2 linked regions of the Homo sapiens genome follow. The protein of the gene in region 1 binds, or shares a complex with, the protein of each later gene. Each region holds a gene or a part of one and is shown in the gene's direction. Other genes may lie near its edges.

Evidence for each region. Proteins that work in one complex are often made in the same cells at the same time.
Region 2: BUD13 (region 1) and ARMC7 share a complex: the UniProt entries of both Homo sapiens proteins name them as parts of the minor spliceosome.

Annotation. Positions count from the first base shown.
Region 1 is NC_000011.10:116,755,966-116,762,987, reverse strand, and holds part of BUD13 (BUD13 homolog), read left to right. Parts: coding exon 1-435; intron 436-2,035; coding exon 2,036-2,253; intron 2,254-3,808; coding exon 3,809-3,914; intron 3,915-4,580; coding exon 4,581-4,719; intron 4,720-5,037; coding exon 5,038-5,222; intron 5,223-5,760; coding exon 5,761-5,842; intron 5,843-7,022. UniProt on the Homo sapiens protein: Involved in pre-mRNA splicing as component of the activated spliceosome. As a component of the minor spliceosome, involved in the splicing of U12-type introns in pre-mRNAs.
Region 2 is NC_000017.11:75,106,076-75,112,990, forward strand, and holds the start of ARMC7 (armadillo repeat-containing protein 7), read left to right. Parts: upstream 1-4,074; 5' UTR 4,075-4,213; coding exon 4,214-4,304; intron 4,305-4,387; coding exon 4,388-4,531; intron 4,532-6,915. Other genes in the region: SLC16A5 (monocarboxylate transporter 6), read left to right, coding at 3,660-4,074. UniProt on the Homo sapiens protein: As a component of the minor spliceosome, involved in the splicing of U12-type introns in pre-mRNAs.

The DNA of each region.
Region 1 (7,022 bases):
CTCCCCCAAGGAGGCCTCAGCATAATTCTTCAGGTGCATCTCCTAGGAGAGTCCGTCATGATTCACCAGATCCCTCTCCTCCTAGGCGAGCCCGTCATGGTTCCTCAGATATCTCTTCCCCCAGAAGGGTCCATAACAACTCCCCTGACACATCTAGGAGGACTCTTGGCTCTTCAGACACACAGCAACTCAGAAGGGCCCGTCATGACTCCCCTGATTTGGCTCCTAATGTCACTTATTCCCTGCCCAGAACCAAAAGTGGTAAAGCCCCAGAAAGAGCCTCTAGCAAGACTTCTCCACATTGGAAGGAGTCAGGAGCCTCCCATTTGTCATTCCCAAAGAACAGCAAATATGAGTATGACCCTGACATCTCTCCTCCACGAAAAAAGCAAGCAAAATCCCATTTTGGAGACAAGAAGCAGCTTGATTCCAAAGGTGAGCATATGACTGTCCATGAGAGGGATGTATGTATCCCTGGGAGCTTTCTTTTGGCCGTTTAGTTGATTTATTAGGTATAAGAATGGAATTTCTTTGGGAAAGTTTTGAAAAGTGAGAGGCTGGGTTTGGGAGAGTTGAACAATTATGGTGGCAGGGAGGAAGGTTTTCATATGTCTTTTTATGTGCTCGCTCCACCCCATATAAAAGTACAATTTATTTGTTGCAGAAGCTTTGGAATGTACAGAAGTATATAAAGATAAAATGTGACACAAAATTCTGTCATTCAGAGGCAATTATTGTTAGTGTTGTGGCCAGGGTCATCTTAGTCTTTTTTGGTTTGCATTTTTTATATAGTTGAGCTCTGGCTGTGTAGAACATTTGTATTGCATGTGCAATCTTGCCTGCTGTCCTTTCTTAACGTAGTCTTCCTCAGGCCATAAAACATCTTTATGTTAGTATAATTTTTAATAGTGTTTAATTACAAATTTAACCATTTTCCTAATAATGAATGTTTTTGGTTATTTCTAAGTTTTTTCTTCTGTAATTCTATAATGAACATCCTTGTACATAAACTGTTGTCCCCATTTTGGATTATTTCCTTATCTACTTCTAGATAGATTTCCTCGAAATTCAACTACTTCTATATAAGTTTCCTAGAAAGCTGAGAAGTTGATGTACTGGGTCAGAAGATGTGGGCGTTTTAAAGACTGTCGATACATATTGCAGAATGCCCTTTGGGAGGTGACTTGTGATGCTTATACAGTCGCTAGAACTTAGGCCTGTGCAGTGAAATTTTTTACTCCCTCTTTTGTTCCTAGGAACTATTTTAATTTTAAAATTAAAGTACTTTGTTATCCTTTAGTCCAAGGATATCAGACTATATTCCAGGTATTTCTGACTTTTGCCACACTATGGAGAGCTGACTACAAGTTATTTTGTCTTTCCATGGGTGGGGTTACTGACATAGAGGAGTGTGTGGAGATTTTACACACCAGTTACAGTCAGTGGTCACTTGGGAATAGAATGCCATATTCTACCTGTTGGTCTTAAAAGTTGTTTCTGACTTTGCTCTTCTCCTGTGCCATCCATACTTATGTTTAGGTTAATGATAATTCTTCATAGGAAAACTAAATAAATATTGTACATTAGCTTGGTAAGTTATCTTTTTAGATTCTTCCAAGGGGATTAAAGAACTCTTTGGCCAGGCATGGTGGCTCAAGCCTATAATCCCAGCACTTTGGAGGCCGAGGTGGGCAGATCACCTCAGGTCAGGAGTTCAAGACCAGCCTGGCCAACATAGCGAAACCCCATCTCTACTAAAAACACAAAAATTAGCTGGGCGTGGTGGCACACACCTGTAATTCCAGCTACTTGGGAGGCTGAGGCACAATAATTGCTTGAACCCAGGAGGCGGAGGTTGCAGTGAGCTGAGATCATGCCACTGCACTCCAGCCTGAGACTGTCTCAAAAAAAAAAAAATAATAATAATGTAAGGAATTCTTTAATTTCTAGGTTCTTCTCCCAGCCATAGGAGATTTCATGTAAGTTCTTCACCTAGAGGACATCAGAGTCACACAGATTCTTTGCTCCTATCCAGGTGACTGCCAGAAAGCAACTGATTCAGACCTTTCTTCTCCACGGCATAAACAAAGTCCAGGGCACCAGGATTCTGATTCAGATCTGTCACCTCCACGGAATAGACCTAGACACCGGAGCTCTGATTCTGACCTCTCTCCACCAAGGAGGAGACAGAGGACCAAATCTTCTGATTCTGACCTGTCCCCGCCTCGAAGGAGTCAGCCTCCTGGAAAGAAGGTCAGGATTTTCAGGAGCCATGTCCTTCTTTTCGTGTGACTCTTCTCTCTCAGCTTTATATATGTCCCAGAGAATCAAGCCAAGAAGAAGGATGTAGCTCTGAGAAGTGTAGTAAATCTTAGTTAAAAGGACCTTTGGAGGTCTTTCCTTCTGAAGGCAAACTGGCTATAACCCATCCCAGATGGACTTACAGATACCAGATTTCCCAAGTAGCTTCTGCGTTTATAGCCTCTTAATTCTACAATCTCATTTTAACAGGTCTAGAAAAACTTCCTATTTTCTTAGGAATAAACCGAGGACTGTAATTTGCAGAGTGAAGTTTGGAGCACAAGCATTGTGTCAAACGGATCACATACAGAAATTCTCCTTCTGCCACTTACTGTCTGTGAGATTTGGGCAAGATGCTTAATATCTCTAAACCTCAGTTTCTTTATCTGTAAATTGTGGATAATAGTAGTACCTACTGTGTAAGGTTGTTATGATAATTAAGCCAGTGTAAGTAAAACTCTTAGCACAGTGTCTGGGACAAAGTAAGCATCTAGTGTTAGTGATTTACTAGTATAAATTGGACTATAGGTCTCTGTATCCAGAGCTTAAGGAGAGGCACTTAAAATATGAAACCACTTTTAGAAATCATGTTGTCTGAGAAGTCAATGGTTTGTTTTAAATTCATGATAAGGCTTGATGAATTAGCCAAAAAACCCCAAAATCCATATGAACCTTGAGTAATTATATTGTAAAGAACATTGGTAGTAGTAAAGGAATCTTATTTGTAAGTGGTTAAGAAACAGAATGATAGAGCCTGTGATGTGCATTTTTCTCCCCAGTGCAGACTTATCAGGTAAATCTTGTCTGTAGAAGACTCTGAGAAGACTGGTCCTGGCAGGGTAGACCAGCCTGTTCTTTACCCAGGAAGTGAGATTCTTCTTTTTTAGGGAAAAAAGAGGTCTCTGTTTCAGCTGGACCTCTTGGCATTTTATATATCCATTTAGTTCATGGACAACTTAATATTATTCCAATTTCGTTGCTGAAGGATATCAAGATATACTGTGTGCTTCATTCGTGGGCTGATTTGCTATCTTGATGCTAAGTGGAAATTAGCAAAAAGTTTTCATTTGTTAGATCTTCTGTTATTACCATGAAATATATCCACAATTTAAGGATCTTAGGTTTGCTTGAGTTTGTACTGTAAATGGAATATTTTATCAGTATGGGTCTCTAATGGAAGGCTTAGTGCTTTATACTGGTTTCTGATCAGATGACCTGAGATAGTCTTCATGTGTGCAGTTTATATACTGAAAAGTCAGAAATACAAATGCGTAGCCCTCCATTTAATATATTGTTAGTGTTTCTGCTTATTCTTAAACTTGATGGTTTTGATGATGGTTTTCTTTTATAGTTTTTGAATCCTATGGTAATTATTGAGAATATAAAGCTAGAGTTTTAGGTTTAATTATTGCTGGTCATTAGACACAAATGCAACTAACTGTGTACCCATGGAGCCTACTGTCACATCATCTCATTAATGTTGGATGCTCCCTTTTCCGTTGCATAGGCTGCACACATGTATTCTGGGGCTAAAACTGGGTTGGTGTTAACTGACATACAGCGAGAACAGCAGGAGCTCAAGGAACAGGATCAAGAAACCATGGCATTTGAAGGTAAAAATATGAAAGTGCAGAGACCAATTTAGGCTCATACTGTTTTTTTTTTTTTAATTTAGCTTATTGTACCTGATATTTTGAACTTTTAATTGCTATCAAATTTCAGCTCTGGTTTTATGCATTGTTGTAATTTCTCAGTGAATCCCAGTGCTTCTTTCCTTCTTGAAAAATGCCATTTCGCCCAGGCGCGGTGGCTCATGCTTGTAATCCCAGCACTTTGGTAGGCCGAGGCGGGTGGATCAGCTGAGGTCTGTAGTTCAAGACCAGCCTGGCTAACATGATGAAACCCTGTCTCTACCAAAAATACAAAAAAAAACTAGCCAGGCATGGTGTTGCATGCCTGTAATCCCAGCTACTCAGGAGGCTGAGACAGGAGAATCGCTTGAACCTGGGAGGTGGAGGTTGCAGTGAGCCAAGATCGCGCCACTGCACTCCAACCTGGGCAACAGAGTGAGACTCCATCTCAAAAAAAAAAAAAAAAAAAAAAGGAAAATGCCATTTCTTGGGCCCAGTGCCAATATGCACCAAGATGTTGGTAGGAACTACTTTGGTCTGGCTGCAGAAGTTCTTATCTAGCATTAGAATCCCAAGCGGTTGATTTGATCTCTTAGAATGTTATTTCTGATTTTGATCCTGATATTTGAGTATAATTTTCCTTTGCAGCTGAATTTCAATATGCTGAAACCGTATTTCGAGATAAGTCTGGTCGTAAGAGGAATTTGAAACTCGAACGTTTAGAGCAAAGGAGGAAAGCAGAAAAGGACTCAGAGAGAGATGAGCTGTATGCCCAGTGGGGAAAAGGGTAAGGGAACCACTGAAAGGGTAAACAAGATGGCAGTGACTGGAACAAGTCATTTCTCTGCTCTTCTGATCACTCACTTTCTTATTATGCCTTCAGAGCTGTTATCAGTAATGGGAAATTTGGTGTGCTGAATCTTCTTCCTAGGATATTGATATATTCCACGCTTCTAGTGGGTATTCTGGGAATTTTACCCTGCTCAGTATTTGCCCTAGGGTACTAGAAAGAGGAGATTGTCCAAACTTAGCAGTATGGTCCATCTCGTGTAGAAGTGGAAATGTCATACAGGATAGCAAACACTCTTGGTTCCTTTTTGCCCAGGCTTGCCCAGAGCCGGCAACAGCAACAAAATGTGGAGGATGCAATGAAAGAGATGCAAAAGCCTCTGGCCCGCTATATTGATGACGAAGATCTGGATAGGATGCTAAGAGAACAGGAAAGAGAGGGGGACCCTATGGCCAACTTCATCAAGAAGAATAAGGCCAAGGAGAACAAGAATAAAAAAGGTGGGACTTCTGGGAATCATCAGCTGGAGGTGACTTGTGAAGAGAGAATCATTAGGATGCTGATACATAGCTATATGCAAAGAAGGATTTCCCAAATAATTTAAATTCATTGTATTTGTGAGTTTAGATTCAACTCAATTGGTCTTTCTATATAAAAATTTTTCCAGGCCAGGCGCAGTGGCTCATGTTTGTAATCCTAGCACTTCGGGAGGCCGAGGTGGGTGGATCACCTTAGAGTTCGAGACCAGCCTGGCCAACATGGTGAAACCCCATCTCTACTAAAAATACAAAAAAAAAAAAAAAATAGCCGGTCATGGTGGTGCACGCCTGTAATCCCGGCTAGTTGGGAGGCTAAGGCACGAGAATTGCTTGAACCCAGGAGGCAGAGGTTGCAGTGAGCTGAGATCGTGCCACTGTACTCCAGCCTGGGCAACAGAGTGAGACTCTACTAAAAAAAAAGGAAAATTCCACATTGCCATCCAGCTCTGAATTAAACTATGTCATTAACTGAATACTTTTTTCTTACTCCTCTCATTAGTGAGACCTCGCTACAGTGGTCCAGCACCTCCTCCCAACAGATTTAATATCTGGCCTGGATATCGCTGGGACGGAGTGGACAGGTAAGCCTGGGTATTTCTTACATTTTCTACCTGACTGTAACCTTCCCTAACCACTCGTAAGTTGCTCCACACTTTATTTCATTCTCTGCTTTAATCACAAGGTGAAAAATATGCACTTTGCTTGCTTCTTTTTCTGAGGTCCACAAATCCTATTTCTCATGCTTGGAACACTCCTCCTTCTGTTTCCTTTTCATAATACTTTTTAAAGCTCTGGACAAACACCTCAGGTGGTTCAGATAAGACACCCTTTGTTTTGGACATTGGTTACTTTTAATGATATTTTGTAAGGTTTAGAGGGGTTGAGTGATGAGTTGTAGTCTGGAGCCTTCTACCTGATATATCTTTAAAATGTAGCCTCTGAATCTTTATTCACTTTATGGTTTTAGGAGGCAGTCACTTTTAATGTCTTCCAGTCCTCTACCCCACCTCATCTGTCTACCTACCAACATCTGTACCCACGTACTCTAACTTCCTGTTATGATGGATGAATATTTGCTTCCATCCAAAGTCAGTTTGTATACTCACATATTAGATCCCATCTCCTCTTGCCTACTAAAGGACATTGTTTTAGTATCTAGCACAATAATTCTTAAACTTTTTAATCTCAGGACCCTTTTACAGTCTTTTTTTTTTTGAGATGGAGCCTCGCCCTGTCGCCCAGGCTGGAGTGCAGTGGCGCAGTCTCGGCTCACTGCAACCTCTGCCTCCTGGGTTCAAGCGATTCTCCTGCCCTAGCCTCCCGAGTAGCTGGGATTACCGGCGCCCGCTGCCACACCCAGCTAATTTTTTGTATCTTTAATAGAGACGGAGTTTCACCATGTTGCCAGGCTGGTCTCAAACTCCTGACCTCAGGTGACCCGCCCACTTCAGCCTCCCAAAGTGCTGGTATTACAGGCTTACAGGATTACAGGATTACAGGTGAGCCACCATGCCCAACCACTCTTATTTTTTTTTGAGGCAGAGTCTTGCTCTGTTGCTCAGGCTGGAGTGCAGTGGTGCAATCTCCACTTCCCGGGTTCAAGCAATTCTCATGCTTCAGTGGCCTGAGTAGCTGGGATTACAGGCATGTGTCACCATATCCAGCTAATTTTTGCATTTTTAGTAGAGACGAGGTTTTGCCACATTGACCAGGCTGGTCTTGAATTCTTGGGCTCATATGATTGTCTGCCTCGATTTCCCA
Region 2 (6,915 bases), on another chromosome or scaffold:
CAAATTGTTGACCACCTCTGAGCCTTGAAAAAGTAGGAGGTTACTTTGTTAGAGCAAAATAATAAAATTTAATTTTAAAAAAGAAAACGTAGGAGGTTGGTTTGGATGAGCTAGTCTCTTCCGGTTGAAAAGTCTGACTCGGTGAGCATCCTGACGACTCCATTTCCTTCTGGCTCCCCACCCAGTCTTACACTTGGCTGCCATCAATACCACATGCTCTGAAGGGAGAGTGCTTGCATGGACTTTGCCAAATCCTGTCTGCTCCATCTCAGTTGAATGGAAAAGGAGGGAGGTGGGGCTGGTAGATAGGTGCTTTTGGTGCTAGTATCCACCAGGTTTTGTGTGCATCCCGTAATGAGCCCACTTCCTGAAAACATTTAAAGAAAAAAGATATCAGCTGGAGATGGCAGTGCGCACATGTAATCCCAGCTACTCGGGAGGTTGAGGTGGGAGGATCACTCAAACCTGGGAGTTTGAGGCCAGCCTGGGCAACACAGCAAGACCCTGTCTTTTTTTTAAAAAAAAAAAAAAAAAAAAGGCTGGGTGTGGTGGCTCACGCCTGTAATCCCAGCACTTTGAGAGGCCAAGATGGGTGGGTCACTAGAGGTCAGGAGTTCAAGACCAGCCTGGCCAACATGGCAAAACCCCAGCTCTACTAAAAATACAAAAATTAGCCAGGCGTGGTAGCAGTCGCCTGTAATCCCAGCTACTTGGGAGGCTGAGGCAGGAAATTTGCTTGAACTGGAGAGGAAGAGGTTGTGGTGAGCTGGGATCACGCCACTGCACTACAGCCTGGGTGATGGAATGAGACTCGTCTCAAAAAACAAACAAACAAAAAAAACACTTTGGGAGGTCAGAGCAGGAGGATCGCTTGAGACCAGGACTTCAAGACCAGCCTGGGCAACATAGAGACCCTGTCTCTACAGAAAAATTAAGGAAAGGGAAAAAAAAAAAGCCAAGTGTGGTGGATCATGCCTGTAATCCCAACACTTTGGAAGGCCAAGATGGGAGAATCACTTGAGAGGCCACCCTGGGCCACATAAGGAGACCTCCATCTCTACAAAAAATTTAAAACTTAGCTGGACATGGTGGCACAGGCCTGTAGTCCAAGCCACTCAGGAGGCAGAGGTGGGAGGATCCCTTGAGCCAAGAAGCTCAAGGTTGCAGTAAGCTGTGATCACACCACTGCACTCCAGCCTGGGTGACAGAGACCTTGTCCCCCCTTCCCAAAAAAAAAAAAGGTATCAATGAATGTTCTGCATAGGAAACTTTCATCTCACCTGCTCCTAGGCAAGAATAGCAATCATCTCTGGGCAGAATTCCTTCAATAAATATTTACTGAGTATCTACTGTGTGCCAGAGACTGGGCAGAGGTAAGACCTACCAAGGGCTGAGAATTCCACCCCAAGGAGGGCCCCTCCCTGAGGCCTTAAGAAGGGAGAAGACTGGCTGGGTGCGGTGGCTCATGCCTGTAATCCCAGCACTTTGGGAGGCTGAGACAGGTGGATCACGAGGTCAAGATATCGAGACCATCCTGGCCAACAAGGTGAAACCCCATCTCTGCTAAAAATACAAAAATTAGGCCGGGCGCAGTGGCTCACGCCTGTAATCCCAGCACTTTGGGAGGCCAAGGCGGGTGGATCACGAGGTCAGGAGATCGAGACCATCCTGGCTAACACGGTGAAACCTCGTCTCTATTAAAAATACAAACATTAGCCGGGCGTCGTGGCGGGTGCCTGTAGTCCCAGCTATTCAGGAGGCTGAGGCAGGAGAATGGCGTGAACCTGGGAGGCGGAGCTTCCAGTGAGCTGAGATCGCACCACTGCACTCCAACCCGGGTGACAGAGCGAGACACTGTCTCAGAAAAAAAATACAAAAATTAGCTGGGTGCAGTGGTGCGTGCCTGTAATCCCAGCTACTCGGGAGGCTGAGGCAGGAGAATCACTTGAATCTGAGGCGGAGGTTGTAGTGAGCCGAGATCGCACCACTGTACTCCAGCCTGGCGACAGAGCGAGACTCCATCTCAAAAAGAAAAAAAGGGAGAAGACCAATGAGGGAAGATGGGGTGGCCCATCTGATTCAGCAATCCCCATCTAGCTGATTGCCTGCGAACCTCTAGAGAAGGTCTGGGGCAGTTCCTGGGCAGGGAGGGATGGAGCTTACTTCCATCCTCCCTGTTTCTGGGCTCCTATTTGCTGCTCTGTCCAGCAAGAGGCAGAGAAACCCCTTGGGCACCTAGGGGTAAGATGCACTTCCCAGGCTGCAGAGGCTCCCAAGAGAAGCCAAAGGGCTTTGGTGAGGGTCCTGGGGCCTAGGTACCCAGACTAAGTTAGAAACTCCTGCCTCAGAGGGTGTACATAGGGCAGGGGCTGACCACAAGGACCTGAAACCTCAGAGGTGAGGCCTGCTTCCAATGGGGCTGCAGCTGGCTGGAGTGTGACGGCCACTCTGCCTTCATCCGGGCCCAGGGCTTAAGATAATGGTCCTTGCCTTTGTCAGCCTAAATAACAGAGAGGCTCTCTCAAAGAAAATGATATCTATTTGGGCATAGGGCATTGCAATGGTAGTATCCATGCCATAGTAAACTATATGGGTATTCAGGGAGGTAAAGGAAGACAGGCTTTAAGGGAAAAAATAGGATTACATAATTGTTTTGAAATATTTATCCTTAGGTAGAAGGATTAATAACAAGGGTGACCGCTCAAGGTTGGACAAGCGGTTGCTGGGCAGATGGCCATTCAAAAGTATGTTTTGTGCAAGGTTGTGACGCCCTTTGTGCAAGGTTGTGGTTTTTGCAGAGTCTTTGTGATAGTTTTCATTATCAGGTATTTATGCACGAGAACCCTCTTGTCATGGGTTTCTTGGGCTGTGTCCGGGTTTTTTTGTTCTGTTTTTTAACACAAGTGACTCCATTTAGATTAACAACTTTTGCACTCTCAGGACACTCACAGCCTAAGCCACCTCTACCCCTACGTTGTCAAATGCGATGGGAGTGTGGCTAGACCACCTCCTTCCCTGGTGCTTTGTTTCCTGTAACCACGAGCAATCTATCACACACCCGCTTCCTGATAATCTCCGAGAAGGAATCGGCCGAAGGGCTTCAGCATCCAGAAAGCCCCGAAAGCGCCACAATCAAGGCTCCTCCTCGGGCTCCCCCGTGCTGCCCCGGGCGCGCGCCATCCACCCGGCTGACAAAAAGCACCAGGACATGACCCAGTACCCTTTGATTTCTGTCCAGAGGTGGCGGACCCACCTCGGGGCTGGGATGGAGGGCGGGTCGGGGTCGCTAGGCTTTTTGCAAAAGGGGCAAAGGACTGATGGGGGGCGTAAGGAGCTGACGCCCGCGCTCCAAAGGGGCGTCCTGGTCAAGGAGGATGGGCCGCGCCCCCGCCAGCCGTGGGGACCCTGGAGGTGCTTCTGCCTCGACGTCCTCCAACATGGGTGCTGCCAGACTCTGCTGCGCTCCTGAGTTGCTCCTGGCGGAATTCCAGCCACCCGACATGGGTGTCTCATTTTCGGCTTCTGGGCCATGTCGGGACGGCGGAGGACCCCGGGGGACCGGCGGGAGAGTGGGAAAGGTGGGGCGGGAAAGCCGAGCGAGGCCCTCACTCGCCCATCTGTTGGCGGGGGCGGCAAGTGGGTTTCTTTCTTGCGTTCAGATTTTGCAGTAATTTGCATCTGGACATGGGATACGGGAGGCCAGGCTGCTCCTCGCAGTACACCCACCCACGCCTGCACCTGCCTCAGCGAAGCCGCTCGCCGCTGGTTCCAGCACAGGCTAAAGAGCTTCGGCATCCAGAAAACCAGAAGCGCGCCGCGCACGCGCGCCAAGGAGTTCGGCGACGGCCCCGCCCCTTCGGGGGTAGGGACAGCGCGGCTTCCGCCGGGAGCCCGGAACCGAGCCCAGGAGCCGGGGACGGTGCGCCAGTGCCCCCTCCGCGAGCCCCAACCAGTAGACGGTTCCCTGTCTCCCGCGCCCCAATTTCGATTTTCAAACGCAACTCCTACAGGATTCTGAGACCCCGTCCCATCTCCCATATCCCATTTCCAGCTGCAAATTACTGCAGAATCTGAACCCAGGAAAGAAACCCATTTGCCGACCCCCTCTTCCCTCTCCAGACAGGTGGAGAGCGGGTGAGGGTCTCGCTCGGCTTTCCCCCTGCACCTTTCCCACCCTCCCGCCCGTCCCTGGGGGTCCTCCGTCACCGCGGCCATGGCCCAGAAGCCGAAGGTGGACCCCCACGTCGGGCGGCTGGGATACCTGCAGGCGCTGGTCACGGAATTCCAGGAGACCCAAAGCCAAGGTGAGAGCCACGGTGGGATCAGGTGGCAGGGTCCGCTGTGACCGCCGCCCGGACCTGGCTTCAGTGCCGCTTTCCCGTTGCAGACGCCAAGGAGCAAGTCCTCGCCAACCTCGCCAACTTCGCTTATGACCCCAGCAACTACGAGTATCTGCGGCAGCTGCAGGTCCTGGATTTATTTCTCGATTCGCTGTCGGAGGAGAATGAGACCCTGGTGGAGTTTGCTATTGGTAAGGGCGGGGCCCGTTCCCTAGATGCCTAAATGGGCCAGGGTGAGATAAGTGAATTAGAAGTGAGTCCTTGGGGCCGGGCGTGGTGGCTCACACCTGTAATCCCAGCAGTTTGGGAAGCTAAGGCGGGCGGATCACCTGAGGTCATGAGTTCGAGACCAGCCTGGCCCACATGGCGAAACCCCGTCTCGTACAAAAATTAGCTAGACGTGGTGGAGAGTGCCTGTAATCCCAGCTACTAGTGAGCCTGAGGCAGGAGAAGCTTGAACCCAGGAGGCAAATGTTGCAGTGAGCTGAGATCGTGCCACTGCACCACAGCCTCGGGGACAAGAGTGAGACCCCGTCTCAAAAAAAAAAAAAAAAAAAAAAAAGCCGCACACAGTGGTGTGCACCTGTAGGCCCAGCTACTCTGGAGACTGAAGCAGGAGGTATTGCTTGAGTCTGGGAGGCAGAGGCCGAAGTGAGCTGAGATTGTGCTACTGCACTCCAGCCTGGGCGACAGAGTGAGACCATGTCTCAAAAAAATATGTTTTAAAAAGAGCAGTTTTGTAGCCGGGCGCGGTGGCACACACCTGTAATACCAGCACCAGCACTTTGGGAGGCTGAGGTGGGCGGATCACCTGAGGTCAGGAGTTCAAGATCAGCCTGGCCAACATGGTGAAACCCCATCTCTAACTAAAAATACAAAAATTAGCCGGGCATGGTGGTGGGCGCCTGTAATCCCAGCTACTTGGGAGGCTGAGGCAGGAGAATCGCTTGAACCCGGTAGGCAGAGGTTGTAGTGAGCCAAGATGGCACCACCGCACCCCAGCCTGGGCAACAGTGAGACTCTGTCTCAAAAAAAAAAGCAATTTCAGGCGGGTGAGGTGGCTCACACCTTTAATCTCAGCACTTTGTGAGGCCGAAGCAGGGAGATCACTTGAGTTCCGGAGTTCAAGACCAGCCTGGGCAACATGACAAAACCCCATCTCTGCTTTAAAAAAAAAAAAAAAAAAATTAGTCTGGCGTGGTGTCCCAGCTACTCAGGAGGCTGAGGTGGGAGGATTGCTTAAGCCTGGGAGGTCAAGGCTGCAGTGAGCTGGGATTGGGCCACTGTACTCCAGCCTGGGTGACAAAACGAGAATCTGTCTCAAAAACAAAAATAACTCATATTTAGTGTTTTCATATCAAGAGAAGCAGAGATGGCTTGCAGTCTGTAACTTATGGCTTCTGTAGTTGTTATGATCTTAAGACCTATTGAGTTATTCACTGGGTAGATATTTATTGCGCGTGTACCGTATATGCAAGCTACTGCTCTAAATGCTGGAGTATGGTGAACAGCTTAGGGAAAGGTCTTTGCCCCTCAGGAGCTTACATTCTAGTAGGGGGGACAGGTGGTTAGCAAACAAAAAAGATGATGCTCAGAAGGAAGTAAATGGGGTGATGAGAGACAGCAGTGGAAGGTGGGGGTTACTTCAGTTTTGGCCATCATGAGAAAGGCATTTTAGCCGGGACACAGCATGGGCAAAGGCCTTAAAACAGGAAGGAGCCAGACGGAAGGCTGATGTGGGAGGATCGTTGCAGTGAAGTGGAGAATGGCACAAAAAGAGTTTAGAGAGTTCAGTGGCACCAGAGCTTGCAGGAGTTTAGATCTAGGCCGTGGGAAATAGTTTGAAGCAAACAAAATTTTGAGAACAAACAAAAATTCCTTTTTCAAGCAATGCAGTGCCCACCTGTAGTCCCAGATACTCAAGAGGATCGCTTGAGCCCAGGAATTTGAGGCTGTCGTGTGCTGTGATTGCACGATTGCACCTGTGAATAGCCACTGCACTGCAGCCTGGCCAACACGCGCGTAGTCACCTGGCTGAAGTCTTGTCAGGCTTCTCCACTGTAAAATTACTCTTTCTTTCCCCTCTTTACGTATGATACCCATTGGAAGGAAGTCACTACATAAATTATCTTAAATCTCTCTTTTTATTCTCTTTTTCTTTTTTTTTTTTTTTTTTTTGAGATAGGGTCTCACTCTGTCACTTAGGCTGGAGTGCAGTGGTGTGATCATAGCTCACCATAAACTTGAACTCCTGGGCTCAAGCAGTCTTCCTGCCTTAGCCTCCCGAGTAGCTGTGACTACAGGTGTGCACCACCATGCCCAGCTAATTTTTTTTTTTTTTAATTTTTTGTTGTGACAGGATCTCACTGTGTTGCCCAGACTGGTCTCGAACTCCTGGCCCCAAGAAATAAATCCCTTGTAACCCTAAACAGACCCTCATTTCATAACACTGATTCTCGAAGGCCCCAACCAGGAATGCAAATGTTCCCCCTTCCGGTTTGTCTCATTGCCTCTTTGTGGTTTCTTTATCCCCTTTATTTCCTATAATCCAGAAATTGGGTTGAATGTCTTGATA